Regions from separate parts of the Homo sapiens genome. Here all the other regions are linked to region 1. Evidence: fine-mapped expression QTL. A gene starts in region 1. Each other region holds a variant in brackets. All regions are shown on one strand. Distances are from middle to middle.

Evidence for each region. PIP is the estimated chance that this variant, and not a neighbour inherited with it, causes the effect. A credible set is the group of variants that fine-mapping cannot tell apart.
Region 2: its variant is the best candidate, but not a certain one, in a credible set for the expression of CNTN5 in tibial artery (GTEx, PIP 0.86).
Region 3: its variant is the best candidate, but not a certain one, in a credible set for the expression of CNTN5 in aorta (GTEx, PIP 0.58).

Annotation. Positions count from the first base shown.
Region 1 is chr11:99,016,125-99,027,087 of GRCh38, reverse strand. It overlaps CNTN5 (contactin 5), which reads right to left and starts at 6,139. Exons shown (of 25, transcript NM_014361.4): 1 at 5,818-6,139. RefSeq lists a silencer at 3,562-3,762.
Region 2 is chr11:99,501,323-99,512,285 of GRCh38, reverse strand. The region is part of intron 2 of CNTN5 (contactin 5); the gene reads right to left. Among named protein-coding and RNA genes, the nearest start is that of CNTN5, 490 kb to the right of the region's middle. The variant G/T (reference allele first, on the strand shown) is at 6,662.
Region 3 is chr11:99,180,196-99,191,158 of GRCh38, reverse strand. All of the region lies in intron 1 of CNTN5 (contactin 5), which reads right to left. Among named protein-coding and RNA genes, the nearest start is that of CNTN5, 160 kb to the right of the region's middle. The variant C/A (reference allele first, on the strand shown) is at 6,808.

The DNA of each region.
Region 1 (10,963 bases):
TTGATGTAGCTGGTGAGTGCATACCAAGTTCATTGTGAAAAAGTTCACATCTAGCAATTAAGTTCTGTAGTTGTTGGTTAAGAGAATGCGGGTATAGCAGTTTCCACTGAGTTAATATAATTGGATCTTAAATTTCTAATCTTAAAAGACAATGTTTTATGTATAATCAGTGGCAACAAGGAAATTACATATATTTATATTCTAATATAAGGATTTGATTTGAATAGATACAAAAATAATCAAGATGTCCACAGTCTAAAATGAAGTATAAGCCATAAAAAGCTCTGATCTTCAAATTTAAGAGATGTGGGTTCTAATTCCATCTTTTGCATTACTTGCAATGTTGAACACATCACTTCACCTTTTTATACCCTTGCTTATTAGTGAAGAAACTTTGTTTATTATGAGTAGGTAAAAATATGAGCTCGCATGGCCCCTTCCAATATTAAATGGTATTTATTCTGTCACTTTTTCCTAAGGGTTCCACAATTAATCATCAATAAATCATGAGATTTGTGCTGAATTTGAATGATACGGTTATTTTAGCATGAACTCTCATTCACCAGCTCACACATTAGAATAACAGCATCACAGAAGGAGGAAGAGAGTATTAAATAGAATTATGAAGCTTAGAGTTTCAATTCTCTTATCAATGCCATAACTTTTGAAATTCTTATCATTGAAAATACAAAATTAGAAAAGAAATAGTGGTCACTAACAAGTTGTTTTAATAATTTTTGCTATATGGGAGATAATATTAAGCCAGTCTATATCTTTTAGAAAAGAATATGAAGAAGAAGGTTTTAAAATAACAAAATAAGGCAAAATACAATACCTAACAGATTAAACATGAGACTTTTCACAGTGTTTTCAGATATATTTGGGGTCAATCTGTTCCAGTGCCCAGGAATTCCTATCATATTTAATGATCATGAAACTGCCAATTAAATAAAAATGTATTTTTAGAAAACAATAAAATTCTTTTAAAAATTCCTGTTGTCACTCACCTGTAACTTCCAATAATATTACTTTTAATCATCAGGGATTTTGTCTAGTTTAGTACACTTAAAGGCTCAAGAACAATAGTATCTCAACAAATATTGCATAATTGAAAGTAAGTTCTTGCATGTAACTGAAATGGGAGAACCTAGGTGAATTAGAATAGTTGTTCTAAATTCTTGAGTATTGCCTTTATATTTCGTTTAATTTCAGAAAAAAATCCTTAATACTTCTAAGTATAACATTAATTATTTAAGAAAATAAAGATAAAACTTTATATACTTAAAAGTAAATTTCTCACAAAATCAACATCCCATTTCTCTACTATTTATATGATAAATACAAACTCCTGCAACTAATGAAATATTTGTAAAAATACATTAATAGACCTGGTTGCAGCTCCAGATACTTTATTACTATCATTATAATATCTCTCGATGAGAGCATCTCAGTATTTTTAGCCTCATGATGAATGCTTCTGCCAATATTATAACTCACAAAAGGAAGAGAATTTCAATCAACTTTTTATCACCTATATAATCAGCAACATTTCTCTTCCTAAACATATGCTACGTTTACTACTGGATAGTAATGGAAGATGAGATGTTCTCCTTTCTGGGTTGTTAGCAGCTATAAGAATCCTATGAAGAACATCTCTACGCCCTTCATAAAATGTTTAAATATATAATTATACTTTTCCAGTCAATGGTTATGAAAGAGAATTTTTGATCATTCAGATAAATGAAATATTCCTTGCCTAAAATGCAATTGCTTATTTGGATTCTGTTCAGTTTAGTCACTTTCCCTTTAATTGGCTCCATATTTTCTAGTAAAGATACTAACTGTAACAATATTTTTCATAGAAAACTCATAAAATGTATTGGCTTCTTGCTTTTTATCTAGATCTCCGCTCTATGCAAATTGAGTGTGAGAAATATTTGGAAACATGACTGGCATAAGAGGAAATAGGTGAGTCCTGTCGGATCTGTTATGAGAAGGTCATTTGTGAAAATAAATAAATAAATAAAAAGTGGCCATTGGGCAACAAGTTATTTAGATCATTATGAGTTTTTAAGAACCACTTAGAAAAAGAGAAAAAACAACTTTACACCCGTGTTTTAAAATGTATCTAATGAAACATTTTCTGAAACGTTTAAAAATGGCAGTGATCACAAGAAATTCTAGCTTAAGAAATACACAGGAAATGAATATGACTGTAATTTCTTAAGATTCTCATGAATGATAGATCTCACACTATTTTATATTAGATTAAAAATGAGATTCTTTTTTTTATTTCCATAAAACAGACAATCTTGATTTATTTTTCACAATTACTTTGTGGCCTCTCTGGAAAGTTCCCAGTTCCCTGCACTGGAGAAAAGAGAAACTACCATACTTTGAATAGCTTTGTAACACGTATGAGCTTATGTTTGAGGAGGGTATAATGTCAAAAATATAACATGCACTACTCTGGGATATAAAACTAAAGACGTGTGTTTTAATTTATGGGGATTAATAGACATAAAATTATCTACAATTAGCTTATGCAAATATTTATAATAGGCAAAACATAACTGAAGTTATACAGTGTTGTGTCAATTTCTTGGGATTCAATTCAATACTTCAAAATAATTTTGATGAAAGAAATCCATTGTAAAACCAGTTTTCTTAAAAAGCAAATTCATGTTTCCCTTTAAAAATTGCTTTTATAGCCACTGTATTAAAACACTATATTTTGTGTCATTCAATTTAAATAAAATAATTAACTAAAACACTGTTTAAGTGTCTGGAAAAAACATAAACTAATAATATTCAGTTTATTAGAACACTTCTAACAATACACATTTGAATCTCCAAAAATCATAAAACAGGATTTCTTACTTGAGTGGGTAGGGAGATGGAATATAGTTCATAATAGTTTTTAATCTTAAATCTTAAGCATTAGGAGTTTTATATACTTCATTACTTTTTAAAATGTACCAGCCTCTAATGTGGAGTTATTGATCACAAATGCTCAGAAAATAGACCTCTGCAGTGATTCTACCGCTTTGAGCTTCCGACCAGTCTCTTTCCTGCTATAAAGTGTTAAGAAGTTCATGTAACATGTTAGCACAGCCTTACAACACGGTTCTTAACATCTTGTGAGAAACATATTACTCTCTTACTTTATGCTTGGATTGTCAGAAAGAAGAAAGAGAGATAAAATCAACTCCTGGAGTCAGAATTTCAAGAAAACAAACTACATGAATGTATGAGTTTATTATTTAAAGTAAGAGAAATAAATTTCCAACGACTTGGTAAAAATTTAAAAACCCGTATTTTAAAAGAAAGTTCAAAGACAATAGGTAATCAAGATACATGAGAAAGAATGGATTCGGCAAATTACAATATTGTAAATATCTGAGCCTCATAAAATTCTGGATTAGTTTTTGACTGATGAAGGAGACACTAAACTCTGCTACAACTTTGTTTTAGCCAATCAAACTCTCTACAGTCAAATCATCTTCACAGTATTACAGCCATCTAGAGAAGTTTTCATCATTTTTATTTTAATCTTCACAAATTATGCCTTTATTTTGTCTAGAAGTAAGACAAACTCCAAAATGCTTTGGCCAGCCTATGCGGGCCCTTTGCCCTTTACTGGCACCCTCTGGTCCATATTGCTAAGTCAGCTGTGACAGACAATCACACTCCTACCTCTACCCTGAAAGTGGTCAAGATTTTCTAAACTGTGAAGTAAAAGAGACATTTAAAGAAATACATATCAGCCAAACCTGGTACATTTCTAACAGATAGCGCTACTTAATTGGACACATAAGATTGAAGTAAATTTTTACATGCTACTAATTTTAATGATTCATCTTACATAAACATATTCTATGTATAGATTCATGATTTGATTTCAGGTTGGCTCCCTGACTAAGAATTGTTTCAGACCACCTAATACTTGAAGTACTAACTGCTCACCTTGAGAAACATTCAGGTATTTCAGCTATTCATTTAAAAATTCCACAACTGTAGCTTTTTGGATGTATTTCCAAAAGCACCTTGGTGTGCATGTGCCTCACAACTTATAGACAAAGTCCGGCATTTAGTTAATCTATGGGATTATATTTTTATATAACTTTTAAGAATCTAACTTTCTGTTCAGTTGTCTATGGAATCAGAAAGAAATTAAAATTAGCAGTTTTTCTCCTCCTTTCTCAATTTTCAGAAGTTTTAAATAATTTAAAGGATACACCAATTCCTAAGCAAAAACACTGGCACTTGTAATAATCATTTCACTGACTTTCTATTTTCAGATAGGCTTTAATATCATTCCCTCACACTCCAGCTATTTGTCAAATTCTATTCTTTATATTGAATTTCCCTTTTTATAACTTTAACTCTGATTTTTTTTGCCTTTTTCCCTTTAATGGACTTAGATGATCTTTTTATGTAATATCTTTAATTTGTTATCATTAGTTTTATATGACATATTCTTACTCATACCTCTTTTCGATTAGAGTCAGAGTAAACTTATGCCTGTTAAGTTTAAGACTCAGCATACTAGTCCCCACTTAACTTAGAATAATTTGAGCATGAAATAGGAGAATATGCAAGCAACCATGAGAATTGCTCAAAATTGACTACAGGCATTTTCAAAAACAGTTAATGACCTAATCATTATTTTTTAAAATACTGAGAGTCACAATATTAATCATAATGAACTCCTTTAAGCTCCCTGTAATGGTCATAAGTACTTCTGTAATTCTGTTGCAATTCAACAGTAATCGATGATATCTGCATTAATTTTTAAATTTGACTATTTGTCTATAATTTTAAATGCTAGTATTCTAATGAACATCTACTTCTTTCATCCTTATTTCCACAGTCGTAATTGAGAATCAAAGTAGAAGTATTGACCCTCTAAATGATTTTCTCTTTTAAATTAAGAAACAAATGAATGAAATGTAGGTAAGGCATTGAACATACAACAGTTTAAAAGTTTTTTGCTTCTCACCTGCATTTAAATTACCACATGAAATTGTATTTTTCTTGGGAGAACAGTTCTAAGATTTAAAAGTAATATAATTCTAAAATATTTAGTGGATTCTGGTTCTTTCGCAAATAAATATAGTTGAAACAACTTATTGTTCAGGTCATCAGAGTAATTCTCAGGTTTGTGTATGTGCAAATTGATATTCTCTTCCGTATATCTCCCTACAAAACATGGTAAGGATGTCTGAACATAATTTTTTAATCTATCACAATCCTATACAACCTTTAGAAAAAAGCTCAGCATAATCCAAGATACAGTTTTTCTCAGTCTCACGAACTTTGTAGAACTCCACTTATAGAGCATCCCTACTGAATTTTAACAAGTTATTGCAATGCCAGATGCCCAATTATTTAGTCTCGGAAACTCATTGCTCAAACATAAGGCATACATTCAGTACCTGAGAACGGCATCCTATTTTCCAAACATTTAGTTTCTTTTGTAGAAACATCCTCACTTTATCCTGGCATTTATTGCCTTACAATTTGCAATTTGCGTGTAGGAATTGCTTACTCTTATTTTGGGTGGCATTAGGAGATATACAAATAGGTTATATTTACTCTTGTTTCAACTTTTTGCCATAAAATCCCAGCAGGAAATAAAGTCGTGTTTTGTTTCCTTTATTTAAAAAAGCTTCATCTTACAGTTTTTACATTCTGGCAACATGGCAAGAAAGGATGGCTTTGCAGAACAGAGTGTGTCAAAAATCCTAAGTGGCTGGGAGATGAAGTGCACAATCACAGAACGCAGTCACTGGCAAAGGAATGTCAGCCACTTACCAATAAGATGCCAGACTCCACTGTCCTTCCTCTGTGACTCTCAATTCCTGTCTCCCATCCTCCTGCCCATCAGCACAGTTCAGAGAGAGCGGTTCCTCGGGTCCTTTGCAGCCTGTGGCAGAGGCGAATTGCGGAGTTCTTAATCATTCAGAGGGAATCCTCCAGCTTGCCCTGCCTCTCGCAGCAGACGGGACCCAGGTAACGCATCCTCTCCGCCCCGAGCTTTAATGGCACTTTGGCTGCCGCCTTCTCGCAGTTCCGCTCCCCCACGCCGTAGTTGGTTATATTGGGAAGTAGGTGCGGCGCCTCCTGCGGCTGGTGTGTTTGGGGCTCGCGTGTTTTCCTCCAATGCGTCCGCGCGCCCTGCGCCCCGCGCCTCTGACTGGCTGTGTCCTCCCGGGGCGGCCCCTCGCCCCTCCCCGGCCGCCCGCGCTGTCACCGGCGCCCGCGTCCAGCGCCTCACTGCCTCTTGCTGCAAAGGTTCATTGAGCATGTCCCTGGGCTTAACGAACTGTGCGCCTCCCGGAGGGTGCTCTGTGTTTCTCCACTCGTCTCACTAGTCAACCGGCATTTTCCTTCCCTGCTAAGTACAGAGGACCTGCCCCCCTTCCCCGAGCGTTTCTGCTCTGCAACCCCTCCGTATTTAACATTCATAGATTACAAAGCAAACGTGCTGGCTGGAGTCGGCACGGGAGATCCAGGCGAGAGTCCCTTCCTCCGCTCCTGTCTTCACTCTGATTCCTGTAGTCCCCGGCTCACACCTCTGACAGCAGCAGCACAGACTGACGCGTTCACTTAGGTCGGTTTGAGAGTGGACTTTTTCACTTTGCAGAATTTTCTTAAGTCCTGAATGGGAAGCACTTCTCTTTTGTTTCTGCACTTACGCGTTTCATCTAAGGACTATCAGGCTCTGCCTGTTTATATTTCTCTTTGATTTGGGGTGTTGACTCAGTTCTAAAAAAAAGCGAAGGAATGGTCTCAGCAACCTTTTTTTCGGAATTTTTATATTACAATGGCTGTAATTGGAAAAATAACACAGGTAGTAAATCCACAGTGTGGCAGCTTTAGTGCCATTGTTCTGCCAGTCCTCCTCTCTACTTTTTTTTTTTTTTTCCTCTCAGTCTTTGAGTCGTTTTCCAATTCCCACGATTGGGCTGATGGTAATTGGGTATTTGTTAAATAAATTATATAACATTTCCTTTGCAATATATTTCCATAGAGAATGTGGTTTGCACCTGTATTTAATGGAAAGGAAATCCCACGTACTGCTTTCTATCTCTGTGTCTGTATAAGAAACTGCATGGGAGTCTAGGGTCGCACCCCGTGTCCGCTGGTGTCCGTTTTTCATGTGTGTTTGAGAGCAGCCTGACCCTGGACTGACGCTGATTCTTCTGCTCACTGAATCCCCCGATGGGGTCTGACTGGCTCTAATTGGCAAGGAGAGTACAGTGCCAGGCAGCCTGTAGCTGGAAGCCGTCTACCACTAGCCCTGTGTTCTTTCTCTTGCAGTTTTTCTGGTAATTAAAATTAGTCTTTTCCTGTTTCTTGGCTGCTTCTCATTCATCCAATGATGTACAAACACCCAGTCTCTGCTTTTAATCGCTATCCTCAGGATCTAGGCTGATTGCTTGTTCTGTAGCAAAGACAAATTTGTGTGCATTTAATACTTCTCCACTCTTCCATACTTTTTATATTCGTGTTCCTGCTTTCCAGTAACTAGGTTATCTTCTTTATGTGTTAACTGAGGGATCGTTGTGGAGATTCCCCTTCTGTGGCTTTTTCTCTGCCCCACTGGCTCTTCTCCTCTGTCAGGCTGTCGGTTCACAGAGAGAACTACCAGGACTTTTATAACCACATTAAATACATCACAAAATAAATTCAAAGTGTAGGAGCTCTAACGCATTCTTTTTATTGTTCGATGAGGTTTTTGCCTTTAAAAGTGTATAATTGAGCACATGCAGCCTGAAAGAGGGATCGGGAGTGTAGAAAGCTTTCTGAAAGTTCTCTTCCCTTCTTAGAACACCATTCTATATTACCCATGATCCGATAATTTGGGCATTTTGAGTCATTATGTCACATAATTTCTTTCAACTAGCTTTGCCCTAGAAAGGATGTAAGTTGGCTTATAAAAATCTATTCAGTTTAAAAAAATGAATAAAAAATGTAGGTCAGTGAGATCAAGACAAACGGTAAAGTGATAGGAGGAGAGATAAGATGAAGCCAGAAATGAGGTTTATAGAGAAAACTGCATTGATGTTTTTGTTACAAATGGTGCTAGGTCTGCCATTAACTTTGTTAGCAGCCAATGTAAAGAAGGAAATGCTATCGGTCACATGATTCATGGTGCCCTCCTACCATTAACATGAACAAGAAAATTTACCTTTTACATGATGTAAATGGACTAAATATTTCTCCTTTCTTAAGCAAGAACTAAATAAAAGCTTTTAATGTTTCTACTTTTTATAAAGAGAGCAATATTATCACAAGACTATGGTGTGAATATATTTTTGAAACAAGTAGATAATGTAATAGCACTTTTCCTTGCGAAGTTATCTGATGCTTTAGAGGGAGAGAAAGGAAACGTTGAATCTGTTTAATTAAAAATAGTAAGGTCTATTTCTGTCAGTTCAAATTTAAAATGTTGACTTCAATCATTATTTGGGGGTGACTAGGTTACCTGGCTACACTTCATTCAGGACCCAGAAAGAGTGACTATATTTATTCTCATGTCTTTTATGACTTTTAATGTTCTAATTTGTAATAATATACAATTATATATTCCCTATTAATATCTATATATGTAACAGACAAACTGTTAGTCTATCTGACTCATCTTTCTTTAGAATTTTGCTGTTATGGAGTTAACTTATGTACTGTATATTTTTACAATTTTCTGCTTGGAGAGTAAGGGCTCTATAGATCAGGTACACTTCTGTATCCTTTTATATCCACAGTGTTCAGGTTTAAGCAGGTCAATGTCTGGAATTAGAGAAACAACAGTGCTTAAAATAAGAAACAAACAAACAAAACTCCTTGTTAGAGTTCCACTAAAAAGAAACAAACTACCTTGTGTTTTCCAAGTAAACATCAAATCTTTTCACATACCATGACCAAGATTTTCTACTATTGACATGTGAGAATGGGATTTTAAGTTATAGTTGTTTTGATGTAAGATTTGTCTTTAAAAGATATAAAAGTATGTATGCCCCATTATTAAATTCCAATGCTGTTTTCTTAATAAAATGGCATTATTAAAAGATCACTGGTTTTCTCTGTTTGATGCTAATGACATTTTTGAATTAACCAGCTCATCCTGTACCCTGGTAAAATATCATTTGTACATTAAGTTAATTAAAACATTGTTTGTAAGTGGGGTAAGTGGTTCAGTAGGTCACTTTCTCTATGCTATGGTTATGACACCTCAACCTAGCTGTCATGTTGCTGATCTGATCTTGTTGTCTAGCCATCTTTGTGTAAATGTCTTAATCTCTTTATCTCATCGTCCCCAATGGGCAAGCAAGCAGATGCAGCACATCTGTAGCAGTTGAGGTGCCTCTGAGCTTTTGTCTTATTTGTGTAACAGATTTTTATTGAAATCATGCCCTCCTTTCTCTTTCCCTTCATTTGACTCAGATAAGTTCTAGGTTCTAGTTAACAGATCATAACTATTATTATGTTCCATCAAATCATAGCATAACTGTAGGGAAGCAGACCAATGGTGAATTCATGTCTAGATCAGTCATCTTTCTTGGATCATCTGCCTTGCCTACTGGAGCTTCTTTTAGCATTTGCATTTTCTGTTTTGATGTTTTAATCCTCTATGTTAATGTGTTACCAATAATGGTGAATGGGTAAGTACTAAGATAAAAATTAAAGGAATCAAAATCTTGCATTTTCAATATATGCCAGTATTCCCTATAAGTGCAAAGTAACACATGAAGAAGCAAAAGTAAACTTTTACTTGAACTGGACAAAATATGATTTTAATTATATTTTGAGTTTCTTAGAAGATGTGTCTCAGTACTCATATCACAGCTGTTTTGTGAAAGCAGAAGTAAACATATCTTAATCAGACTTGGAAAATATACCAACTTAATTAATTTAACAGCTGCTTCAGTAAACAACGCTAAAGAACATAGTCTACTTTGTGGATGTCTTGATAACATCGGCAACCAAAACCATTAAGAAGTATGAGAGAGGAGCTCTAATTCAACTGTGGTGGTCAAGCTTTTGGTGGTCACAGTACCAACTCTTACTTACAGAAGCTGCAAATATCTAATCTCCTGTAGGTGGAATTTATGCTCACCCTTTGTGACATTTTGGTCCAACTATTTATGCAAACCATAAACATTTGCAGTTAATTAAGATTTTAGAAAATAGAAGTAAAAGTTGAAATCTTACTAATTTAAAGGTAAAGTTTACTTAGTTTTCATCCAGTAGATTCCTTTAGATATGCATTTCTATTTTTTTTTCTTGGATATATTTTAAGTCTCAGGATCTCTATCAGTTTTAATTCACTTACCTTTACAGATGTCTAATTTTTCTTTTATGTAGCATTCTCTCACCAAGACCTCTGGATATAAAGTTGTTTCCATAAAGAAACAAAACCAAAGATTCATTTGCTCATGACCAGGTAAATACCTCTGTATTGTCACTGTTTACATACCATTCTTCTCAGTATGGGATAAAAATGTCTAATGGTTTCTTAGAATTAGTCTAATTTGTTCTTTATGGTTTTAAAGAATGGCCATATGTGTGTTGCATCTTGATCATTTCCCATCTCTTCCCTGTCTCCCAAGTCTGTCAGGTACATTAACTTGACCTGTCTTTGATATTTGGCCCTCCATCAAAATAATCATCCTTCAAAAATATTGCTATCAAATATGATTCTCACCTTTATATATTAGACATTCCTGGTCTCATCTACAATATTTCCAAAATGTACTTAGAATCCAGCTTAAAACATTTTGTGTAGATCTTTAGGTGTAGAACTAGACTGTATGCCTCCTGTGGACCAGGAACTAAATTCTTCCACCCCTCAATCTGATATACTTTGTGTTTAAATTTTTATTGGCTGAGTAGCGTATATATAGGATGTCTCATTTGTTTGTCTGAGACTAACTCCAAGAGACTGCATTATAATGAA
Region 2 (10,963 bases), 490 kb before region 1:
GCACACTATAGGCAATTGGAAGACAATGGTTAGTAACCTTACGCATGTATCTAAATGTATTAAAGGTATAGCAAAATGTGGTATGAAAGAAAAAATGCTATACCTGTCTAGGGCTCTTACTTTGAATGGAGGCGGCAGGGTTGGTATTTTGCTCTAGGTGAGTTCAGGAGTGAATGGGAGTGAATGTGAAGCCCTAGGACATTACTGTACACTACTGTAGACTTTATAAACACTGTGCATTTAGGCTACACTAAATTTATTTAAAATCTTTTTGTATCTTCAATAAATTAGCCTTAGCTTACTGTAATTAATTTACTTTATAAACTTAATTTTGTAAACTTTTTTGACTCATAACATTGAGCTTAAAACACAAATGCATTGTAGAGCTATACAAAAATATTTTTCTTTTTTTATGCAACTACATATTCAAAATTATTTATTTATTTATTTATTTAAATTTTATTATTATACTTTAAGTTTTAGGGTACATGTGCACAATGTGCAGGTTAGTTACATATGTATACATGTGCCATGCTAAATATATATGCACCCAATACAGGAGTACCCAGATTCATAAAGCAAGTCCTGAGTGACCTACAAAGAGACTTAGATTCCCACACAATAATAATGGGAGACTTTAACACCCCACTGTCAACATTAGACAGATCAACGAGACAGAAAGTTAACAAGGATACCCAGGAATTGAATTCAGCTCTGCACCAAGCAGACCTAATAGACATCTACAGAACTCTCCACCCCAAATCAACAGAATATACATTCTTTTCAGCACCACACCACACCTATTCCAAAATTGACCACATAGTTGGAAGTAAAGCTCTCCTCAGCAAATGTAAAAGAACAGAAATTATAACAAACTGTCTCTCAGACCACAGTGCAATCAAACTAGAACTCAGGATTAAGAAACTCACTCAAAACCTCTCAACTACATGGAAACTGAACAACCTGCTCCTGAATGACTACTGGGTACGTAACGAAATGAAGGCAGAAATAAAGATGTTCTTTGAAACCAACGAGAACAAAGACACCACATACCAGAATCTCTGGGACACATTCAAAGCAGTGTGTAGAGGGAAATTTATAGCACTAAATGCTCACAAGAGAAAGCAGGAAAGATCCAAAATTGACACCCTACAAAAATATTTTTCTTTATGTTCTTTTCTATAAGATTTTTTCTATTTAATTTTTTTTAATGTTTACGCTTTTTAAATTAAAAACTAAAACATAAACAAACACATCAGCCGAGGCCTGCAAAGGGTCAGGATCATCAGTATCACTGTCTTGCCCCTTTACATCTTGTTCCACTGAAAGGTCTTTAGTGGTAATAAGATGCACGAAGCTGTCATCTCCTATGATTATAATAATGACTTCCTCTGGAATACTTCCTGAAGAACTTGCCTAAGGCTGTTTTACACTCAACTTTATAAAAAATATCTGAAAGGAGAACATTCTAAAGTAATGATGAAAAGTATAGTATAGTACATATGTAAACCAGTAACATAGTTGTATATTATCATTATGTAACTGGCAGTCCAATAGTTTTGTTTACAGCAGCATCACCATAAACGTTGAATAATGCATTGCAGTACATTACAAAGGACACAATGTCACTAAATGATAGGAATTTTTCAGCTCCACTATTGAAGCACCCTCATATATGCAGTCCATTATTGACCAAAACATTGTTATGGGGTACATGACTGTATGCATACTCATATTTTGTATGAATGTGTATATGTACTTTTCTGAAGCACATACAACTCATACTAGAACTGCTATGTTGCATCCATTAGTTTTCTGTTAACAAGATTGTAGACATGTTTAAATATCAGTAATATTAGAAGTCAGATTTCTAGGTCAAAAGATGCGTGCAGTTTCACTTTGATAGTTTCTAAATTGCCCTCAGAAAGGTTATGCCAGTTTATACTCTCACCAACAGTGTTTGAGAGTCTCTTTTTTTCCCACACCTATAACAACAGATAAATCTTTCAATCCGATATGTTAACAAAGGTCTCATTGTTTCATTTACTTGGTTGTAAGAATGGTTGGCTCTGATTTATATACTTGTTGCCCCATTTTGTTCTTTCTGTAAGCACTCTCTGCTTGTGTCTTTTGACTATATTATTATACAATAATTATAAAGGCTAAAATATATTGGATAGTTATTCTGTGCCAAGCACTGTTTTAAGTAATCTGCCAGTATTACGCAATTTAAGCCCCATAATAGAAACAAGAATTATTTTAATTTTCATTTACATTTTTTTTAAAATTGAGGCAAAGAGAGATTAAGCGACATTTGTATATAGACTTACAGAAATATTAATAGATGGAGTCAGAACTTGAATTCAAGCCCAGTAGTTTGTGTGTTTACCTCCTGTGCAGCATTACCTTTTATTATCACATTGTTTGAATTTTTCATACTATGTAGGGAATACTTTTTCTAAGTTGAGAAAATTAATTCATAACATTAATAAATAGATGTATTAAGGAAATTACCCCTATATTAAATGATCAATAATCTCTTTTTTTCTCAGTAAAATATTTTTTATTTTTATTTATTCATTTTTGTGTATATTTTGTTTTCATTAAAAGGTTCTATTCAGATGTAAATCAAAACCTCTGGGACATCATACTATTTTATTAAGTTATGAGACTTCAAAAATTCAATCACTTATTTTGTTGTATCAGAGTCTAAAAATCATTTTGGTCAGTTATATTTTAAAAGACTGCTTTAAAATTTCAACAGCACCTTCCCTTTTTGCTCTTTCTCTTTGCCAGTTTAACCAATATCCTTATCTCTTCTCAGTGAACATGAAGAAGAATTCACCATTTCTATTTTGAATGTGCACAGAGATTTGTATTAAATTAATCTTAATTTCCTCTATTAAATTAAATCAAATTAAATCTTTAATGTTTGTTTACAAATTTTTTGAGAATTTTTCATGTACGATGGTGAACTGACTTTAGTTTTTTAGTACACCCTGAAAACAAACAAAAAACAAGAATGACAACTCTGCTTTTTAAATGAAGATCCTAAAGAACACAGGGATGAGCTCAAAGACATTTTCTATTCTTGTTGGCCAAATCTTCTGAAATATATATGAGAATTCCCTTTCATAGGTATAGTACAACATGATGATTTATATTCAACTTAGTACTTTTGGTTCTAAGATATATTCCCCCCATATCATATCTGTGTAAGTGTTGTATCTTTTTAAAATTAGATGGTATTTTTTTCCCACTTCATATTTACACTTTATGTATTTATTTATAAAATTTATCTTGGCGGCCGGGCATGGTGGCTCACGCCTGTAATCCCAGCACTTTGGGAGGCTGCGGCGGGCTGATCACTTGAGGTCAGGAGTTTGAAACCAGCCTGGCCAATCTGGTGAAACCCCGTCTCTACTAAAAATAAAAAATTAGCCGGGCATTGTGGCGCATGCCTGTAATCCCAGCTACTTGGGAGGCTGAGGCAGGAGAATCGCTTGAACTCAGGAGGAGGAAGTTACAGTGAGCCGAGATCGCGCCACACCGCACTCCAGCCTGGGTGACAAGAACAAAATTCCGTGTCAAAAAAAAAAGAAAGAAAAGAAAAATTATATTATGCGTTGCTGAACCTGAGTCACTTCAGTTGATATAAAAGCCTACGTTTTTAAAGATTGTAATTTTATATACAGCTAATTGCAGTTTGCTCTCATTATCCATTGAGGAAGGGCTCCGCAAACCCTGTGGATACAAAAAGCTGTGGATGCTCAAGTCGCTTGTATGAAATGGTAGTACAGCCAGCACTCAGTATGTGTGGCTCTGCATCGGTGTACTCAGTCAACAACCCTGGATCCAAAAGCCGGCCCTCTGTGTCCACGGGTTCCACATCACATACGAAGGGCTGACTGTAAATGACAACAATTTTCTTTAAAATTATAAAATATTTTAAAATATTACCCAGTAGCTGGGGAAAAGGAAAGGCAGGCGCTTAACATATGTGCCAGTCATGAACCTAGGTATTTTATACAAATTAATTACTCAGAAAGCTTATGAGGCAAATATTATTATTTTCATTTTACAACGGAGTGGCTCAGCGAGATCACTACAAACTGTTTTGGCTCCCAAGCCTACGTTCTTTCTTCAGCAGGATGACATTTTATACAGCATTATCACCAAACATAACTCTGTCCTAACACTGAAGACATGTTTTGGACAAGAGTATATTTTGAATATGAAAATGTCATTTGACTATATTAACTTCCATTTTAGTAGAGCTGATGTTGCTCTGTAATGAAGTGAATAAAATAATAATAAAAACTAACATTTACTTCATAAAAACACATTTGAGTTAAGTTTTATAAAGCCATTCAAGCACTTAACTCACTCACTCATGTAATAGTTATTTATCTTGAACTTACTAGGTCCAGAAAAATACTCTGTGTTTTAAAACCTGGGCTCTACCCTACCAAAAACGGAAAAGAAGCTGGAAGAAAGCACTTGGAAAAGTAAAACATATTTACACTTGATGAAAAAATATGGCACGTGAAAAGTTGAGTCACACTTGTGAGGTTAAAATGTTTACTGCCAATATTTTTAAAACTTTGGAGCAGAATGAGGGAAAAATGTAAATATTCCATATCTAAATGTTATGTATAAAATATTAATATTATACTGCATTTCTTTCTAGAATATTTTCAAAGTACATCGTTTATGTATTTTAGGTCAATGTCTTGTTAGCTACACATCACAACCCATTTTTTGGTCAATAAATCACTTTAACAGGTCACAATTCAAATTCTTTTAAAATTAAATTAAAACAGAGAGAAAAAAGAAAATGTCAATATACATTATATTTAATGGGATGACTATTGTTTTGAAAAACCTTTCTTTTTTTTTTTTTTTTTTTTGAGACAGAGTCTCCTTTTGTTGCCAGGCTGGAGTGCAGTGGCACCATCTCGGCTCACTGCAACTTCTGCCTCCCGGGTTCAAGCGATTCTCCTGCCTCAGCCTCCCGAGTAGCTGGGACTACAGGTGCGCACCACCATGCCTAGCTAATTTTTGTATTTTTAGTGTAGAAGAGAGTTTCACCATGTTGGCCAGGATGGTCTCGAGCTCTTGACCTCATGATCTGCCTGCCTCGGCCTCCCAAAGTACTGGGATTACAGGTGTGAGAAAAACTTGTTTTATTTGTGTATTATGTATGCATATATGAGGGTCATAGGTACAATACACTTTTTATTTTTAAAAATGGAAACTAAAACATCTGAAAAACATTGATTTAGATCATTTCATATGTTAGATGTCAAATTCTGCTTTTTCATAAAAATAGCATTTTTCAACTTTTTATATTTTTTTAAATAAATACAATTGTCTCCACTCATATAATATTCCCTCAGGTTGTTCTCATTAAATTTGATCAATTACTTCATTTTGGGCATTTTGGTTATTGATATTTTTTACTATAACAAATAATGTAGTGACTTTGTTAGACTTTACATTTACTTTCTTGAAATATATTCCTACAATTACTACTATGAAGTAAACAGACAATAACAATTAAAACAGTATTTAGAACTACTGGTTATTTAATTTTACTTATTTACGTTACTACATTGAAATTCCTACTTATTTACAAGTAAAATGTGACATTACAGTAAATTTAGAAGAGAAAAAACACACACTTTTACTATACAAACACTATAATTTTTTTTAAGTATTTACTCATTGTTTGCAATGACTATTTTTCAAGGCGCAAATCGTCTACCTAAAACAAATCGCAATACTGAAAACTAAGAATAAATGAGAGGCACTGGTACCTGGAAAGGTGGACACAAGACAGAGGTGTGAACCTGCCTTCGTTTAAAAAAATAGAAAAGATATTTGTATAAGAATCTGCATAACATACACATTGTAAACAGAGAGCAAGATGCTCACATGATGGAAGAATAACTGTCTCATGCCATTAAAAAGAGAGAACATTTTTTTCTTTTTCAACAAAGATACTCAAAATTATGGAAATACTTATTTTGCATGGGGATTTTCATTTTTAGTACGATCCTGAGCAAGGGCCCCAGACTAATTTGCTGACCAAGAAATGATGAGCATGAGGACAAGCCGTACCATTCAGATTCATGGATCAAAAAGTCCAAGATCAACTACCAGTAACAAATGTTAAAGCTGTCAAAAAATACTCAGAGCAACAAGCTGGAATGCATTATGCAGCAGCCTAAGGTGAGGGATTACCTCCTGTTTATTCAGGCAGCTCAAATGTGGAAGCAAAAGCCACTGTACCTGATCCGTTATGACTTTGAAAAGTGAAAAGAACACACACTAGTTAACACACAGAGTTCGGAATTGGCAATTAGCTAGCCCTTGGCCTGAAGAGTGTCATTCATTTATGGACCAATGACCAGGAGCCTGGCAAAATGCTCCTTGCTGATTAGGTTCAGAAAATTCTAAGTGGGGAAAAGAGGAAGATCCTTTAGCAACACAATGAGGCCTGCATTTTTACTAACCTGGAGAAATGCAAAGGTTTGATATTATTTAAAAAACAAAAATGAAATTCAATGTGGAAAATCTGTTACATAGGGATTGGGGGAGGAGATATAATTGTGTTATCTTCCAGCATCCAAGCCTTACGTGTATAAAGAAACAAGAA[G/T]GTAATTAGGAATACCACAAGATTTCCCAAAGGCTGGATTTATCTTGTGTAACAAATTCTCTGGCAGCTTTCTAACATTGCTATTTGGGCCTCCTGTCTAAATGACCAGAGTGAATCATTCAAAAGTTATGTTGAAAAAAATTTATTAAGCTCTCAAAAAACTCTATTCTTCCCACATCATACTTGTTTCTGTAAATTATCCTGCATACTAACTCTTTCTCTCTTCTGCAAATACTATTCAGCAAAGCAGGACAGTGAGGAAAGCAGGACAAAGAGTACTGATAATCAATGCTCTTATATCCCAAATTTGTACAGATAATTTCTACCATTAGAGATTTACTACTTTGTGTCAGCATGTCTTTTTTTAAAATGTTAACATCAAATTGGGATACCATATAAAAGCAATAAATGGTCACCCATTCTTTAATATAAATTAAACAAGTCCAGCGCTTTCTTTCAAACAGCAAGTTTACTGTATAACTTGGGCGAAATGGGAGGTATGCTGAGAGAGAAGAAAGAAAACATACTGGAACACAATTGAGTCTTGAGAAGAGGCCATCCCAGTAGACATAAAGTCAACCAGAAGTCAGAAGTGGGACAAAAAGGATCTGACTTAAGAATTTATTAAGTGGCTGCAAAATATTCAAAGACTATTTTATTTCTGCTTGCCTCTTTCCCCTGCTTTTTACATTCTCTTCTCCTTTCCTTTTTCACTTAGAATTAGGAGAGCAATAAACTATGGTTTCTGCACTCAAGAAGTTGTGGTCTGTTAAGGAAAGTAGCACCAAAGACAACTATCTGTAATGCAATTTCAAGGTCAAGGGAACTCTAATCACAAGTGGTTAAGTCTATGGAGTCAGCAAAAGAAGGTTTCAAAGAGTGAAGAATCTTTCATTTGGAGCTTGAAGAACGACTTTCTAACAATTTACTTGATGTTACAGTAACTTCCTGCTTAAAATCCAAAGTTCTATTAAAAATATATACATTCATCCACAACAAGAGTAGAAATATTAAATCAGACAACTGAATTGTTAGTGTGTCTCAAATGTAAAATTATATTTTAATTTCTTTTCTTTCTTTTTTTTTTTTTTTTTTGAGACGGAGTCTGGCTCTGTTGCCCAGGCTGGCGTGCAGTGGCTCACTGCACCCTCCGCCTCCCGGGTTCAAGCGATTCTCCTACCTCAGCCTCCCAAGTAGCTGGGGCTAAAGGCCTGTGCCACTATGCCCGGCTAATTTTTTGTACTTTAGTAGAGACGGGGTTTCACCGTGTTAGCCATGATGGTCTCGATCTCCTGCCCTCATGATGTGCCCACCTCAGCCTCCCAAAGTGCTGGGATTACAGGCATGAGCCATCACGCCCAGCCACTTTAATTTCTTTTGGATCATATAAGAGTAAAAACACTTGTCTAAACCCATGGGTGCTAGGATTATTATCAAAATATTAGTTTACATCAAAACTCTACCTTTTCTAAAAAAAGTCAGTTTGTTGATCATATTAAAATTACCTTAAATCTGTGCAGCCCCTGTTCACCACAGATTTATAATTCAAATACATTCACCTAAATATGGGTGAGAAAAATCTTGTAAGCCAAGCATCTCATTGAACAATTAACACACAAATATAAAGCAAAAAATGAATATTAAAAAGTAACATATAAATCACTGTATTACACTAAGATTTTTGTTACAAATACATTGTAATTTAAACGATGTATCTTGCTAATTTAACTCAATTTGGTTCATATTTATTGAATAATTATTAACTAAAATGGATTTTGCCATTAAAGTAGTTTAACAGAAAGGAGAAATGAGGTACAATTCCTTGCCATCATAGAATATAATATATATTACAAAAAAAATTCCATTATATGTAATAGATATAGATCTATTTATCTGTCTGTCTACCCATCTATATGTCAATTATCTGTTATATGCCTGGAACAGTATTATTAGAAGCTGCGGATGACAAAATAAAAGACCCAGGTTTTTGTCCTTCAGTACTTTGCAGTCCAACAAAGGTGAAAGATATATTAACAATCAAGTGCTATATTACAGATTTTGCCCTAAATTACATTGAGAGGCACACTTGTTTCACACTCACAGCATTGCAGAAAGCTTCCTGGAAGTGATTATGTCTGAACTGAGCTTGGGAGAATGCATAGCTCTTAGGTGGTTGAGAAACAAATGAATATGAGGCTGAGAATCTAGCATATCTTTTACAGAGAATATGATCCCCTTTTACCCAGACACGTTGCTGTCTTTTCTTGGGAACAAACTTTATTCATAGTTGTGTAGCAATAAATAAAGATGGATCACCCGGTTTTGACAACCCAAAGGGATGACAGGGTTAAAGAGGGGTTGTCTCACATTCTAGTAATTAGTGTATGCGAACATGGTGGGCATGGAATGACAAAACACATTAAGGAAGTGAAGGGAAGAAAGATGTAGAGTTACATAGGGAAAAGGTTATAGAGGAATACGCATAGTATAATCCTAGTAAGAACCATATTTGTCAAACTGCAAGTAAAAATTAAAAAGGACTTAAAAGTGCTATAAATAAAGATGGAAAGGATAGATATATAACAAATATTTAAGATATAAAACTGGTAGTGTTAGATACTCTTTTTAATATAAAAGTTTGGGAAATTGTAACCCAAGATAATTCCTAATTTTCTAGCCATGCAGAATGACTGAAATATGATGTCATTTACTAAAATGTGGACTGAAGGTGAAGAAAAATACTTTGGGAAGGAGAAGACATGTTAAAGAAAGGACAGATGAGTTTGAAGTGCCTTTGGCAAACACAGGTAAAGATGAAAAGTGAGACATCATATAGGTCTTTAGTTTACCTCTAGGAGGGTGTATGGTTTAGAAGAGTAGGGACCTAGAGCATAACTGTGCTTTTGTTGAAAATAAGTTACTGTTGGGGTGTATTAGTTCATGTTCATACTGCTATAAAAACTGCCTGAGACTGGGTAATTTATAAAGAAAAGAGGTTTAATTGACTTACAGTTCAGCATGCTTGGGGAGGTCTCAAGAAAGTTATAATCATGGAAAAAGGTGAAGGAGAAGCAAGGCACCTTCCTCTCAAGGCAGCAGAAAGAAGTGCCAAGCAAAGTTGTGGGGAAGAGCTCCTTATAAAACCATCAGATCTCCTTAGAACTCACTCACTATTATGAGAACAGCGTGGAGGAAACCACCCCCCCAACCCCCGTGATTCAATTACCTCCATCTCGTCCCTCCCTTGACACTTGTGGATTATGGGGATTACAATCCAAGCTGAGATTTGGGTGGGGACACAAAGCCTAACCATATTAAAGACACAAGAAAAAAATAGCAATATTTGAAATATTTGAAAAAGCATCGTTCTAAATAAATACAAATGAGGTAAAATGAACCCTGCTACCTGTACTGTTTTTCTCACCCTCTACAATACAGACTGTTGATAAAAACCATCCAACATAGATGTTAGCAATGGACAACATAATACAATTGAATTGTCTGTTGCAGAATTATAAAATAATGGAGGTGTTGAGGGAATACAATGTTATGAGGCCGAAGATTAGATACATGTACAATTTGTGGATTAACCTATGCAGGGGCAATTTCAGAAGAGCCATCAGCGTTGTACCTATGAATAATTCTAAGCCAGAAATCCCTGGTTGATGACCTGATTATGATGACAATCATTTACGCTAATAAAAGATGGAAAAGAAGATAACAGAATCACTAAATGCCTATGAGTCAGGCCTTCCACATTTTTAAAATCAAATACTGAAAATACTGACAGGTGAGTGTATCATCTTGGAGAATGTGAATGACATATGCAATGTCAAACAGTCAGAGAGAAAATTAGTTTTCAAACCAGGTGTGCCTTATTTCTAAGACAGAATAATTGCATTATTTTATAAATAAAGCACTAATAATATTTGCTGAGTGGGTAATTGAATGAATGGTTGAATCACTGATTCCACTAATAACAAAAATATCTTTTACCTGTGGATAAAATTCAAAACTTTTTTTGTCCTAAGAATGGGCTCACTTGCTACTGAAGAAGCAAATCAGTTCTTTTGCAACTGCAGCATCTTGCCTGATGCCAGGAGAAAGTGGCTGTGTCAGTGGTTTCTTGAAGGATGCATGTACATTTCAGGTTTACTTAGTTGGGAAAGGACTCACAGAGGAAGTAGTTATTTCAAATATTCTTTAAACTAAATGTTAGTTAAACAAATCTAGGGTTATTTAAACCTATTCTGAATGATTTGCATTAACTTCAATGTTTTCTCCCTTCATAATTGGCTTGAC
Region 3 (10,963 bases), 160 kb before region 1:
CACAGGCAAATCTATAAATATGGTACACACATCAACAGAATGAAGAAACAAAAAGATATGTTTATCTCAATAGATGAAGGAAAGGCATTTGACAAAATCAACATCCTTTTATGATAAACACCCTTAAACATTAGATTTAGAAGGAATGTACCTCAACACAATAAAGACAATATATATGGTAAACACAGCTAACATCCTTCTGAACAGTGAAAAGGTGAAAGCTATCCCTCTAAGACCAGAAACAAGACAAGGATGCCCATTCTCACTACTTCTATTCAACATAATCCTAGATGTTCTAGCTTGAGGAGTTAGGCAAGAGAAAAAAAATACAGATTACATGATATAATATATAGAAATCCCTAAAGACTCCACCAAAAACCAAAAAAATAAAAGTAACAAATTCAGTAAAGTTGCAGGATATAAAACGAAAATATAAAAATCAGTATCATTTCTATCCACTAACATTGAACTCTCTGAAAAAGAAATCAAGAAAACAATCCCATTTACAATACTAACCAAAAAAATCAAATACTCAGGCATGAATTTAAGACCTCTACACTAAAAAAAACTACAAAACATTGGTGAACAAAAATAGAAGAAGAAACAAATAAATGGAAATACATTCTGTGTTCATGAATTGCAATAATTAATAATATGAAAATGTTCATACTACCCAAAGATATCTACAAATTCAATGTAATCTCTTTCAAAATGCTAATAACATTATTTGCAGAAATAGAAAAAAATCTTACAGTTTGTATAGAACTACAAAAGACCCTAAATAGACAAAGCAATCTTGAAAAATAAATAAATAAATAAGCTAGAGGCATCACACCTCCTGATGTCAAAATATACTACAAGGCTATAGTAACCAAAACAGCCTGGTACTGCCATATAAACACAATCATAGAACAATAGAACAGAATAGAAACCCCAGAAATAAATCCATGTGTTTATGGGCAATTGATTTTTGACAAAGGTGCCAACAGTGCAAAATGGAACAGGACAGTCTCTTCAATAAATGATGTTGGGACAGCTGGATATCATAACAATACAATTAGATCAGTATCTAATACTACATACAAAAATCAACTCAAATAAGTTAAAATTCAAATGTAAGACTTGAAACTATAAAACTACTAGAAAAATACAGGGAAAAGTTTCATGACATTGGTCTAGACAATATTTTTTTGGATAGGAATAAAAAAGCAGAGACAACAAAAGTAAAAATAGAAAAATGGGATTACATCAAACTAAAAATCTTTTGCACAGCCAAAGGAACAATCAATAGAGTAAAGGGACAACCTATAAAATGAGAGAAAATATGTGCAAACCATACATATGATAAGGGGTTAACACCTAAAATATATTAAAAACTCAAAAAACTCAACAGCAAAAAATGAATAGCCTAATTAAAATGTGGACTAGAATACATATTTTTCAAAAGAAGACATTCAACCTGTATATGAAAAAATGTTCAATCATCAGAGAAATGTAAACTAATAACTAATCATCATAGAAATGTAACTAATCATCAGTGAAATGTAAATCAACACCACCACGTCACTTAACACTCAACAGAATGGCAATTATTAAAAAGAAGAAAGATAATAAGTGTTGACACGGATATGGAGAAATGGAAACCTTTGCATAGTGTTGGTAGGAATTTAAATTAGAACAGTCAATATAAAATACTACACAGAGGTTCTTCAAATACATTAAAAATAGAAGTGCCATATGACCAAGCAATCCCACTCATTTTTAAAAGAGATAAATCATTATGTTGAAGACATATCTTCACTCCCATGCTCATTGCAACATTAGTCACAATAGTCAAGATATGGAAAGAGCCTAAGAATCTATCAAACGATAAATAAACACAGAAATGTAGTATAAATATATATGTACGTGTATATATATGTATAAATGTATATTTATGTATACACACACACACTATGGAATATTATTCACTCCACTCCAAAGCCTAAGAAAGAAATCCTGTTATTTGTGTAACATGGTTGAACTGGGAGGACATTGTTTTAAGTTAAATAAGCTAAGCACAGAAAGATGAATACCACTTGATTTCACTTATGTGTGGAACCTACAAAAGTCAAAAATCACAGAAGGAGAGAGTAGAATCAAGGGTTGAGGGAGGGAAGTGGTTGGGGAAATGTTCAAAGTTCGAAAGTTTCAATTAAAAAGGGGGAATAATTTCAAGAGATCTATTGTACAACATGATGATGATAGTTAATAAAAATGTATTATATTCTTGAAAATTCCTAAGAGAGTAGAAAACTGCTAAGAATGTAGAAATAGAAGTATGTCTGTTAATGCATATGCTAATTAACTCAATTAAGACATACCACAATGTATACATATTTCAAGACAATATGTTTTATCCAATAAATTTTTTTTGTCAATTAAACATAAAGAAATTAGTAAAAATACTAACGAGCATAAGCATGAGAACGTATTTAATATCAGACCAAATAATACATGCTCCTTTAAAATTCTTAATGGTTATAAATAAAAAGAAATAAAAATATTAAATAAATCGTGTTCCTTTCATATAGTGGGATATAAGAAACATTAAAATCATGTTTTGAATAATTGCAGATTGTAAACATGAAAGTTGCTCAATCTCACTCTTGGAGAATTTCTCTGTTTCTATACACTGAGAGCTCATTTCTCACCTATCAGATTGGCAAAACATAAAAGTTCTGACAACATGTTCTGTTGGCAAGACTGTGATGAAAGGGACATTCTCGTACACAGATGGTGAGATTGAAATTGGAAAGGGACTTGGACACCACTAGCAAAATTACATATTCAGTCACCTTTGAATCAACAATGTTACTTCTAGGAATCCATATGAAAGTTAGACTGCCAAAATAGGAAGTGACATATATACATGTTTATTTATTCCACCATTATTTGCAATAATAAAAATAAAGAATTAACCCAACCTTATACCATCAAAGGACTAGTTGGACATACTGTCATATGCCTGTATGATATATAACTAATCACCTATAAAAAGAATAATTTTTAATACAAAAATAAAGTCATCTTCAGAATATATATGTGTTAAAATGAAAATAAAAAGTGCAGAATGGTGTTACTATATGCCAAGTTTTGTACAAGAGAAGAAAATATGAATATGTATATTTTCATTTGCTCATGCATTTGTTTATATTTATAATAGTAACCACTGGAAGGAAAAGTCAAAAAGTGATCAAAAAAGAAGTGTTCAAGGATGGATTAAGACTTTCTTAAATGTATAATGCTATGTGGTTTCTGACTCTCAGATGTTTTGTATTTAATAATGTTTTACATAATTATAAATAAAATTAAGGTAAAAAGTCCCAAAAAACTATAAACAACTCACCAATTTAAATATTAGCATAGTGATATCACACAAAAATTGCTTTAAGTGATTGAAAGCACAGTATTTTCATAATGACAAAAGTTGTGTATTTAATCAGATCTTCATACATATAGTTTGTAGTAATATTGGATAAGTTCATTTGAAACCATTTTTGGTAGAACATAAAATTAAAAAGTAAAACTCAAGATATTCATCATAAGAATACATAAAATTGAAGTAGTTAAAACATTGATATTAAATTTGTATTAAAATAACATATCTCAATTTGTTATTTTAATTCATGTTAAGATACATGGAAGGAGACATGTTATTTTAATACAAATTGTAATTTGTATTAATATAACAAATTGTAATTTGTATTAATTTGTAAATTGTAATTTGTATTAAAATAACATGTATCCGACTCCAAAACCCCAGTAGATGGGCAGGGTTATACATCTAGGGTGCCACTGCTTTCCTTTATTTCGCAGACTTCTCTTTATGTTAAGTGCTGCCTGGGGTTATAAGAGAAGAAGGTACATTTTTCATTACTTCACCATCTTTGATTGTAATTTTCTCTCTCCTGGTTGTCTGCTGCTTCTTTGTTTCTTACTGACCAGTGCCTCTCTATAGAATGAATCAAAATGCTGGATTTATCACTGGATACACGTAGAATTTTGGAGAGAAAGCCTGGTGAGATGCTCCTGAACATCTCAGTACCTCCAGGTACTTCCTGTTCAGTTGCCTCTGGGAATTCCTCCATTAACACTCAACCCTCTTAGATCAGGCAAGATAGCTCTCATTGTCCATTTGACTCACAGGAAATGTTTGAGAACTGGCTGCTCAACCCTCATTTCTCTATCTACTTTGCCCTCTCTCTACTATTCTCTTTTTCCATTCTCAGCCTCAAGGAAGATCAACAAGGGCAATCAGCTACTCTTGCAGGAATTAAGATTCCAGGCTTCTCCTTTCAGCCATCCCCTCTTTTAATAAGTAATACTTTTAGGTATCCCTGTCACTTGATCTCTTGCCTTCCCTCTGGTCTTATTTTACAGATTGAGAAAGTGGTCACTTTTCTAAGAAAAGAATCTGTCCCATTGTCAATGTTATCTCCTTAGAGAATGTGGGTACTGAAAAGCATTTTTTTCTTTAACTTTGTGTTCTTGAAGATAATGCCATCATAGTAGAAAAAGTCACATTAACCATTCTCTTACAGTGGTATATGAGATTGGCAAAAACTCAATTTGAATTAAAATAAAAAACTTTCTTAGAGAAATCTAGATGCTGCAGGCAAAGTATACAAAAACCCAGTTCAATTTTACATTAAGAAATCATGAAAGCTTATCAACAGAACAGTATTTTTAAAATGCAACCACAAATTACCAATAAACAGAAAATACTGTGCCCAATAAAAGCAGAGCTGATATAAAAACTTTAGAATGTCAGTGAACATTACTGCAATCTAACTCTACAAGGTATGAGTGCTATAATGTGAATGAGGGTTTAAAGTAGAAAAGTATTTCTCTCTATTGTGTTTTTAGAAACCTTGAGTAATGGAACTCTTCCTCCTTCTGTGGTTCATAATGGAATAAAATCAGAGAAAAATCTACAATAAATTTTGCTTCATAGGACACATAGGTAGAAATTTATGTTGCAAACTAGATTTTATTTTTATATAATTATCTCTAAGAAAAATTTCTATTTTCTCCCATCTGTTGCTTTAAAAGAATATGTAACATGGTTCTCCATCTGCAGAAGCTATTTTTGATATATTCATAAACCTTTATTTTGATGGGTTATTTTTAAATTGTGATAACATTTCTCTTTATTTTATTTCCTCTCCTTAATTTTGATGGGTTATTTTTAAATTGTGATAACATTTCTCTTTATTTTATTTCCTCTCCTTAATTTTGATGGGTTATTTTTAAATTGTGATAACATTTCTCTTTATTTTATTTCCTCTCCGTTATTTTGATGGGTTATTTTGATGGGTTATTTTAAAATTGTGATAACATTTCTCTTTATTTTATTTCCCCTCCTTTTTTCACCAAAGAGAAAAATATACACTTTCAGCTCCAACTAAGTACAAAATTTAAATCATTAGCTCACATTGTCTAGTTATTGAAACTTTTTAGTTCAGATTTAGTGCATTTATTTCCTTAAAAATATAGTAGACAAAGGGTAAAAAAAAGTTCAATGCAGATCTTAATTAAGGTCATAGGGAAAAAAAACTTTTGAGGATTTCACTGTATATTGTTTTGTACCTAAAGGCAATTATCTTCTAAAAAAGAATAGGCCATTAACTCTGAGTTCAAAGAAATCAAGATATTTTATTTTTTAAGGAATTAGTCTATTTTAGTAATCATTTTCTTAACTATCATTGATTCACCCAATCGAGATTACTTCTTAACCTATCATTTACAAGTTTAATTTTAGGTGTTTTTGTGATCCACTCCCACTATAGATACTCAATAAATATTTGTTAAGTGAATGAATAAAAAAAATCTTTAGTTATCGATTCACCCTAATCAGCCTATTCATATAAGTCTCATGGCACCTCATCTCTTCCTATGCTCACCCTCTCTACACAATATCCTTCCAAATATTACCTGAAAAAGAAAGTCTTTTCCTTTTTTTCTGTTCTTGTTGATATTTTCTTTCTTGAATTTTTGGCTTTTTTTCTGTGTTCTCCAAAATAAAAGATGGGGCAACTTGGTTTCTCCATTCATATTATTTTTTTCTTTTTCTTCTTTTGTATTTTCTTAGGTGTATGTATTTAAGCATCTAATTTATGTCTAACTTCAGTTCAAGTTTCTTTATCATCTGGAATTGATTTATTTAATAGGTTTGATTATTTAAACGTTATACACGATCAAGAAGAATTTCAAAACCAATGACTAGTCTTTTATCAATGAGTTTTCTAAAAATATCACTTTTAAAATTTACAGTGTTAAATTTCATTTATTCTAGCCACTGCTATTTTTAGGTATAGGGCTGGGATATTATTTTCCAACCAGCTACTTTATTTTCCATCATTACACACACAAAAAAATCAGATGTTCATTGTTTCTAAGCAAAGTAATACACTTCAAGCTGTATGGCAGTGTGCCATTTTAAATCATTTTCTTTGCACTTCTTGATAATCATGGAATTATATGATATGACACTTATTAAGTAAGATTCCATAATGGCTATTGACTATTTCAAGTGCTAGATAATAAGCTAGAGGGCAAATATGTTAAAACACTCACTATATAAAATGTTGCAATAAGAGAAAAGATTTTATATGGGTATGAAGGATGGCTGCCTGGAGGAAGAAAGCTGGCAGGATTGGAGAAGATTTCCCATAGCAGTTACATCTGACTTAAATTTTCAAGAGGATTGAGAAATTTGCCAAGTTAAGTGGTGAGAGCAGGAGGCTTTCTGAGCAGAGGGAGTAG[C/A]AGCTGTGAGTTCATAAAATTGTAAGAGAACATGGCACACTCAAGTACTGTCAGTAGTTAAGTAGAGACATAGTATAATGAGCAAAAGGTATGTGGGGGAGATGCCAAGAGCACAGATAAGCAAAGAAGAGTATTCACATCCATAATGAAGAAGTAAAATTTTATCTTGAATTTTTCTAAGGGGGTGACAAATACTTTTAAAAACTTCACTATGGTGGAAGTAGAATGAATTAGAAGTTAAAAAATTGAGATTAGGAAAACAGTGTATATTTTAACAGACCAAGCAAACCATAATGACAGCCAGAGTGGAGGCAATGAGAATGAATACAATGCTGCATGGACAGGTTCAAGAAATATCAGATAAGTAAAATTTGTAAGTCTTCATTCATCTATTAGATATGTGAATAAGGAACAGGATAACATTGTTTAACTGACACGGGCAACAGAATGGGTAATTAAACTATTAAAATACAGAAACAAATTTTAAGGTTAAGATATTGAGTTAAACTTTAGACATGGAATTTTAAATGAAACCAGCAAATAAATATCTAGTAAGAAGTTAGCTACATGGGTGTGGAGTTTACGCAGTTAGGTTGGACTAGCCAGTTTCAGAGCTATCTATATATTGGTGGGCCATTAAACCAAAGGAGTAAATGAGATTACCTGAGCAAATGGTATGTCAAGGAAGAGAAGAAAACCGAGGATAGAGCTTTGGAGAATACCAGCACTTTAGGGGTCATTAAGAGAAGACAATTTTGCCAGGAAGGTAAAAAGAAATACCCAGACATAAGAGAAACACCAGAGAAACAAATACCATGAAACTAAGAAAGGAGATAATTTTAAGAGGAGAGGAGTGGATGATTAATGGTGACCAATGTACCATGGGTTTGAGTTGCCTACAGACTGAAAAGAGTCATCTGACTCAGCAGCAACAATAGTTATAATGATCTCTGCAAAAATCACTTCAGTGGAATGTCACTTAGAGGAATAACTTCTATCTGGTTTCTGAAATAATTTCTACAGAATGGTTTGGAGTCCTTGAAATTCTGAATTAAGTTTCATGTATTCTTTTAAAATTTCTCTTCAATAGACAGTATCAGAGGAAATTTCATCACTGCCTGATAAGCAGGAAGATGAGAAAATGTTATGGTGTTGCTTCTAGAAGCCTAAGGACATCTTTAGTGAAAGGTTAGTTTCCAGTAGATAATATTGGTGAGATTAAAACCTTTTGAATATAGTAACCAAAATTGAATGTAATCACCATGACTAAATAAGAAAAATGGTCAGCTAGGAGTCTAAGCAGTCATTGATTCAACAAAATATTTGAGTGGCTTCTATGTGACAGGTCCTATGACAGATGTTTATTTATATATATCACATAATCTACCCCATTATCTACTAATAAACTATTAATGATTAGTTTATTTTAATGCTATCTACTATCCTTTTAGCATCTTCTTGATTGCATATTATATTTTAAATTATGTTAATATTTCATTACACAGTGAAGCTCAACGTCAGGAATTACATGTTAGAACACATGTTACCACTGTATGCTGTAATAGATTTTTATTACTGAAGCAAACTGTTACAATGTTATTGGTATATACTGGCTTGACGACTAAATAAAGGAGCCCGAGTACGTTAAAAACTGGAACTTATTAGAGAGTAAACATTTTATCTTTGATTTCTAATTTTTCTTTTTCTTTGGCCCAGACTTCTTGGATGATGCCCAGAGGATGGAGGGACTCTAGACATCTGGCAATAGAAAAAAACAAGAGAATGTTCTTGATACACTCACCATGTCACAGCATTGCAGAGCTCCTCTAAGATGTTACCCACTTTGGGTAGCTGTATTTTTATCCATAATTTATTAGTGAATTGTTATGAAAAAAAAATGCCTGTGTATAAAGCCACTCTGCCAGCTAATCCCCAGAGGAATCTTTACTGGAACTATTACTTTAATGAACAAAGCATTCCTACAGAGCATGACTGTGAGGTACAACATTCAATAGTGCTTCATTCCTCTTTATTGTCGAGTAGCTTTGTGATAAAATAATGAAAGCAGCATTTACTTCAATTTGACACTCTACGTATACTTTGCCATATCAAATGCTCATTTTCAAACTAATAGTATTAAAATATGAAAAATTAATGGGAAAAAGCAATATCCTCACACTGCCATTGTCACTGTTTTCCATGTTGATGCTCATGCATCTTCGGCTTTCTCTTGACAGACTATTTAATCAGCGGGCAGATCAACAGGGCAAAATTCCCACCATAACTGCAAACTTGAATGTGGATGAGTGGATTACAATAAGTTTAAGTCTTGCAATGAGAGGCATCATAATGTATGGTGATATAATTGATAGTGATTACCAGGGAGAGTTAAAGGTCATTTTATATAATACCACTCCAGATTCTTTTGCTATATAACCTCAGATGCGGGTTGCTCAATTGTTAGTGGTACCTTGTCAACAATTAACCCCCAAGGAAATTTCTGCCCCAATAGAAATAACATACAGAACCGGAGAATTCAGGTCCACCAAAGGGGGCAACTTAAATCTTGGAGCCAAAATATGGGTACAGTGTCCATCAGATCCTGCCCCTAAGGCTTGTGACCTTGTAGCTATAGGGGCAGAAAATGAAGGCATAGTACTATTTCCTAACGAAGAAAAATAATGCATCCTCCCCTCCATTTTTGTTATTACAGAGAATAACCTGTCTGCTAGTAATCAGTACCTGGGTCATCATGTCTTAGGCTGAGAATGAGTTCATCAACTGGGTAGCCACCGTTGCAACGCAAGCCAACTGCAGTCGGTACTGGCTATGTGTGGAGTTGCCGCGGGAGGCCCCCAGGAATGGGCTACCTTGGAGAATCATCCCTGCTAACATTTCTGGATGGATATGCCAATACCAATGGGGGTGGGATAATAACACTTGTAATCCAACCTGGACTTCTTTTAACCAAACAGTCTATTTTGCCCAAACCCAAATGAGACACAGCACCTTTGTTACTTAAATTACACATGACAGCAATACAATTATAGTAGAACTCTTCCTGTTCCCTGGGCGCCCTCTGGGCACGTGGATCCTACGGGTGGCAATACCTGCCCCCACTTGGACGGGGAGATGCACTTCAGGGTGGCCATTAATTACATTCAACATCCAGGATAATAGTCCCCTCCCCAGTAATCTAGATGCTTACAAACATCACTGATTATGAATGCACCAGACCCCCTGGTGGTGGTACCCCATCACAGTATTCTCCCCTGCCACCGGTACAATCCTGCTTCAGCAACAAATTAAAATATTGAGCTTACACGTACAAAAAGCTCTTAATGATAGTAGCACTGGACTTACGTTGTTATAAGATGAATTTGCTCAGCTGCGTACTGTTATGTTGCAAAATCGAATGGCATTAGATATGCGTACCGCAGCCCAAGGAGGGGTTTGTGATTTACTGCATATTGAATCTTATGTGTATATCACTGGCAATTCTCACAATATGACTCTCCTTGCAAAGCCATGGTGGGTGTGGTATTTTATTAATTGTGCTTCTAATTCTCCTGTGCTTACCCCGTATCTGTAATCTATATCGACTATGCCTTCCCTATGTATCTGTAAGGGTATTTTCCTACAATTGAGTATCAGATGGAGGCCGACTGTGAAGGGAAAGTTAAATATTAAATTTGAACTCAATTGAACATGGACACAAACAACAGTCACCAAGTCCCGAAACAGGTTGTGTGAGCTCCTTGAGGCATTCATCCAGCACTGTTTCAGAGAAATCTCTATTTCAATCTATTCCTATATGTTAGTTATCGGAAAACAATAGACAATCACAAAAACAAGTTGACCTTTTTGTGTTCCTTGAGCCCAGTCACAAAGAGCCCTCTTGACTGGACCTTATGCGAAACAACTCATTACAAAAAGAGTTAGGGTCCCAGACTGCGCCGAAACTTCATGAGACCTCTCCTCGCCTGTGCACAGACATGAGTGGCCAACTCTGGAGCCGAGACTGTTGCTTCCCAGTCTGGTGGTGAATCCTCCATAGTCTGGTGAGTGTAAATATCTTTTCCCTTCTCCCTTTCCCATTGCAATTTGCTTATCATATCAATCTGCTTACTGTATCATCTGCTTATTATTATATCAT